2 separate regions of the Homo sapiens genome follow, and region 1 is linked to region 2. Evidence: fine-mapped expression QTL. A gene starts in region 2. The other region holds a variant in brackets. All regions are shown on one strand. Distances are between the middles of the regions.

Region 1 (2,923 bases), 32 kb after region 2:
TTTACCCTCACATCCTCACCACCTGCTTCTTTGTTTGATCACCAATAAATAGTGTGGGCTCCCAGAGCTCGGGGCCTTTGCAGCCTTCAATCTAGTGCCGGCCCCCCGGACCCACTTTATGCACTTTTAACTTATCTTTTCACATTCCTCTGACCCCGCCAGACTTTGTAGCCCCCACGGCCTGGTGTTAGGCCTGATCACCCCAACATGGACACTGTGTGCACGGATGTCAAAAAGGAGAGGTGGCATAGGAGTAACGACCCGGAGCGGACTGCTGTATGCTATAGGGGAACATGATGCTCTCACATCCAACTTGACTTCCAGACTCTCAGATTGTGTGGAGACATCTGATCCCAAAACAGACATGTGGACTACAGTAGAATCAATGAGCATCAGCAGAGATGCAGTGGAGGTCTGTTTACTTGTTGATAAGTTTTATGCTGTTGGGAGGTATGATGGACAGGCATACCTGAATACAGTGGAGGCTCATGATCCCAGACAAAGAGTGGACCCGGGTTGCTCCACTGTGCCTAGGAAGAGCTGGAGCTTGTGCTGTGACTGTAAAATTATAATTTAGTGCTCTGTTTTCTACATGAAGACACTCTCTTCCTTTATTAATTTAGTACAATTATTCTACCATCAATGGATGCATTTTTAGTAAACATGCATTGCCACAATCCTGGGCACAAAGTACCTGATCTCAAAGCAAAGATAGTAAAACAACGGAGGAAGGAGTGGATGGACCAGGATTAATTGCTTTCAATTCTTAGTAAATGAAAACCTGCAGCTGGTGGATTGTGAACAAACATTCCTGATGTAACATATTAGGACAGATGCACTGCTCTGGAACATAGCCCAGTGCTAGCTGGGGATCTCATTTATTCAGTCAAGCACATCTTACTCATGCGGGTGGCAAGCCACCCAGGTGCCGAGGCAAGAAACCGAGGGCACGAGCTGTTCCAGTATAATAAAATATATAAAATAAGAATAGTTATACTAGATATAGATCTTAGATATGATTATATATATATCATTAATCATTAGTTTGCAGCAATTATTCTTTATTCCAATATTATAATAATTCTTGCTCTACAATCATAACCTAGGAAAAACCAGGCCATACAGAGATAGGAGCTGAGGGAACATAGTGAGAAGTGACCAGAAGACGAGTGCGAGCTTTCTGTTATGCCCGGACAGGGCCACCAGAGGGCTCCTTTGTCCAGCAGTAGCGCCAGCATCTGGGAAGATGCCCGTTGCCAAGCAGACCCTGGTCTAGCGGTAGCGTCAGTGTCAAGGAAAAACACCTGCTACTTAGCAGACCGGGAAAGGGAGTCTCCCTTTCCCCAGGGGATTTTAGAGAAGACTCTACTCCTCCACCTCTTGTGGAGGGCCTGACATCAGTCAGGCCCGCCTGCAGTTATCCGGAGGCCTAACTGTCTCCCTGTGATGCTGTGCTTCAGT[G/C]GTCATGCTCCTAGTCCACCTTCATGTTCCATCCTGTACACCTGGCTCTGCCTTTTGGATAGCAGTAGCAAATTAGTGAAAGTACTAAAAGTCTCTGATAGCAGAAATAATGGTGTAAGCTCTCTCTCTCTTTCTCCTCTCTCTCTCTCTGCCTCGGCTGCCAGGGAGGGAAGGACCCCCTGTCCAGTGGACACATGACCCACGTGACCTTACCTATTATTGGAGATGGCTCACACTCCTTACCCTACCCCTTTGTCTTGTATCCAATAAATATCAACACAGCCTGGCATTTGGGGCCACTACCGGTTTCTGCATCTTGGTGGTAGTGGTCCCCTGGGCCCAGCTGTCTTTTCTCTTATCTCTTTGTCTTGTGTCTTTATTTCTACACTCTCTCATCTCCACACATGAGGAGAAAACTCACTGACCCTGTAGGGCTGGACCCTACATACTCATATCCAGATTTATTTTCTTACAGTGCAAACACACCAGATGGAACTTCTAAAATGTTGCTTTCTATAAGTTTATCATCTATGAGTTGCAGTAATTTGTTTGTTTGCTTGTTTGTTTAACCACAATCACTATTTTAATGATATACTAAACATAATACTATTTAGTTTTTTCAGAAACATCGGCATTGTATGTGTGTTGGTTGTGGATTTTGTTTCTAAAATTGGCTTAGTCCAATAAAGAAAGAAAAGCATTAAAGACTTAAAGCAATGATAACCAAATACAACCTTGATAAAATCTTTGAAGTCTATTTAAATATTCATTCCATTACATCTAGACTCACCAAAAACTGTATGTCATGATATTCTTAAGTCGAAGTTGAAACATGATGTTTCACATTAAATTTAAGATATGCAGCTTGGCGAGGTGGCTCATGCCTGTAATCCCAGCACTTTGGGAGGCCAAGGCAGATGGATCATGAGGTCAGGAGTTGGAGACCAGCCTGGCCAACATGATGAAACCCCATCTCTACTAAAAATGTAAAAATTAGCTGGGCATGGTAGTGCACGCCTGTAATCCCAGCTATTCAGGAGGCTGAGGCAGGAGAATTTCTTGAACCCAGGAGGCAGAGGTTGCAGTGAGCTGAGATTGTGCCACTACACTCTAGCCTGGGTGACAGAGTGAGACTCCATCTCAGGAAAAAATAAAATAAAAACAAATAAATTTAAGATATGCAAATTTAAATAGAGAAAATAAACGTTATATACCCTATAATGTTATTTCACCTAATTAGTACTTAATTATATGGATTTATTTTATATTATAAAAGATGTTTTGATTTTTTCTTTTGATATTGACAACATTGTTTGGATATTCTTATGTTGTCAAGGCTGCACCTGCCTCCCCTGCCTTATTTCTTATGTTTTGCCACAGTTAACCCATTGTGCTTCTTTGTAATCAAACGGTTTGGGGAGGGGGGAGAAAGGGCTTACTGAATGTCTAAAAAAACAAGTTT
Region 2 (2,923 bases):
GGTGTGGGGTCCATCTGCCTGTTCTCCATCACTCTGGTGGTACTATGTCATCTGCTGAGAAAGACCCCCGGCCTACAGGGTGACCCTCACTCTCCTCAGGGCCACTGTTTGCAACAGACAGACAGCCTGGCAGGCCTTGAACCTCATTTTGTAGGTTCAAGGCCTGTCCCCCATCTGTCCACTATAAGCCTCACACACACCATTCTTCTGGGATACCTTCCCTGAGGCCACCTGGTCAACACCCACAGGCCCCTTTGCTTCAGCCCAGGTCCTGTTAGCTGAGGTTTCCATTTCTGGACATAGCTCCACCCAGTTCTGTGATCCGTTGGGCTGGTGGCACCAGGGGCCCCTCGGTACTTGTCCATTCTGGACAGCCCAGCAATGTAGGCTTTTCCCAAGACTTCCCACCCTGCATGTGTCCCACCTCATCCCCTCCAGGAATTTTGCTTTGTTGCAGAGACTCCCTCCCCACCACCCCCCACCGCCAGCCTCCAGACCCCACTCCCTTCTGGGAGCCCGATTCCAGCAAGATCAGGATCAGGCTCCCACTCTGCTCCTTCTACTGGCCTCAGTTTTTCCCATCTGTGAAATGAAGGGATTCATCAGAAGTCCTTCCCACATACTCAATCACGGAGGCATGACAGGGACATCTCACATCCTCAGAGGCACGGTTAATCCAAGGAATGCCATGGGAAGGGAGGAGACAGCAGGTGGCCTGTGCCTGCACTCAGGTCTTGATAAATTGTGAAATCTCTCCCTCACCCCTTCCTCGGAGGGCACTATTGTTCCTGATGTGCCAGCCTTGATGGCAGTGGATAGGGAGGCAGGGACAGAGACAATGAGGAAGTGTGGTTAGGTATCTACTTAGAAGTCTCCAGATGGAGCCGGGAAGTGCTAGGAGGCCAGTGAGGCCAGTCTGTGCAGCAGGGCAAACGAGTGGTATCCTGCTGGGATGCAACTCAAATGCCTTCACTGGGAACTGCTCCCCCACCAGCCCCACACTGAAGGGCTGGCTCTACCACTCACAGGAGCTGGCAGGGCAGGCAATGAGACAACCCTACTGCCTCTAATGCAGTAGATAAAATTAATGCAGGGCCAACCCTCATATCAGAGTGGTTTTTCAGTTACCTGGACAAGTGCCAAGGGAGGGGCCCCTGGGGCCACCAGCCCAAAGACCACAGAACTGAGTGGAGCTCTCTATGTGCAGGAGACACACACAGAGATCAACTGATCCTTGGAGCTTGGGAGATTTCCAGGATTTCTGGGCCACTGACACTGTTTCTATAAAGCCCTCTTTGGCCATCTCAGTTCCTTTCCAGGCTAAGCAGTGAAAGCCAAGTCTTAGTTCTCCAGGCCTGGGCCTTCCTGAGTAATTTACAGGACTGGTGTGAGGGACAATGTCAACCCACCAGCCAACTGCCCAGATTTCCCCTCCTGGCGAGTGAGGCCAAGCCACTTCATTTCTATGTTTGAAGCCCATGTAAAAGAAACAGAGATTGTCAGTTTCAGAAACCGACTCTGTCCCTTCAGTCCTGGAACCTCAGGCCTCATCTGGTGACTATGGGGTCTCAACTTACAGTTTAGCTCTCAAAACAGCCAGACAGAGCACCAAATTGAAAGGCTACAAATGAGAAGTATCGTCCCCACCGCCCCAGTGACTTGGCTTCTTGCGTACCTAGTTCTCTTCTCAGTTTAATAGGTAATAGATTTATATGGCTCAAATTCAAAGCATGCCCAGGGGCTCCAGAGAGAAGGCTCCCTCCTGTTGCCTCCCTCCACAGGGTAATCCTTTCTCAAATTCACTAGATCACTGCATCCAGACAGGGAGACACTGGATCCCTCGTTCATCATGGCTGCGTTCTTACCCCTCCCTAACTCCTTCCCAAACATAGCTACATCCCTTCCACTGTTATATAACCCTCCAATTTTGGCCGGTCAGGGAGATGGATTCAAGACTTATCTCCCATTCTCCTTGGCTGCAGCACCTGAATAAAGCCCTTCCTCCCGGCAGTGATTGGCTGTGCAGCATGCAATGGGACCCAGACAAAACCCCTGGTGTTTCAGTAACACATTCAGACTATGGAACAGATTAACCCCGGCTCCCTAGAATTTGTTTTCTGAAGAACAAACAAACAAGGCAATAATGTCTTATGAAAAGACATCAGTAACCTTAAGCCTGTAAACCCCATCCATCTGTAGGGCACCCCATCTCACAGCAAAGCATGGGTGACAGCTGTGTGCTGAGAAGAGTCGGAAAAGGAGCCATGCTTCCAAGAATGTCTCCCTCATAACATGATGAGATGAGTCCTTAGTGAATTGCCAACCAAAACAAAAAACACAGCTGCTAAAAAAGAAGGTTCCTCCTTTGGAATCCTTGTACTACCATATCAAAATATTGAGAAGGAGCATCTCTTGTATTGACAGTAAGGATGCTGATGACTATTAGTGAATAAAAAGCCAGAATGAAGGACATGAACTTACACACATTTAACATTTCGGCACAGGTCAAGTAACTACAATAACCTATATACAAGACAAACAAGACAAAGTATATTTAGAATACATGCGATGAGTATTGATGCAGAAATGGACATTTCTCAGAATAAGATATGACTTTACAGATACCATACAGAGAATATGATTTCATGCAGATGGAGAAGATGTGGTGGGAGTTGTGGGAGAGCAATAGAAAATACATTTCCTGGCTGGGTGCAGTAGCTCACATCTGTAATCCCAGCACTTTGGGATGCCAAGGCCAGGAGTTCAAGACCAGCCTGAGCAACGTGGTGAGACCCTGGTCTATATAAAATATATTTTTAAAAAGTTTCCTGTACCTAGAAACAAATCCAAGATGTACTCTACAGAGAACCTCTACAGAGAAAACTAACACCCTGAACGTTATTGGAGAACTAAATAAATGAAG

Evidence for each region.
Region 1: its variant is fine-mapped to the expression of MIF-AS1 in sun-exposed skin (GTEx, PIP above 0.99).

Annotation. Positions count from the first base shown.
Region 1 is chr22:23,929,006-23,931,928 of GRCh38, forward strand. It overlaps the pseudogene KLHL5P1. Among named protein-coding and RNA genes, the nearest start is that of GSTT2B, 31 kb to the right of the region's middle. The variant G/C (reference allele first, on the strand shown) is at 1,462.
Region 2 is chr22:23,897,267-23,900,189 of GRCh38, forward strand. MIF-AS1 (MIF antisense RNA 1) reads right to left here and starts at 1,664. Exons shown (of 3, transcript NR_038911.1): 1 at 1,578-1,664.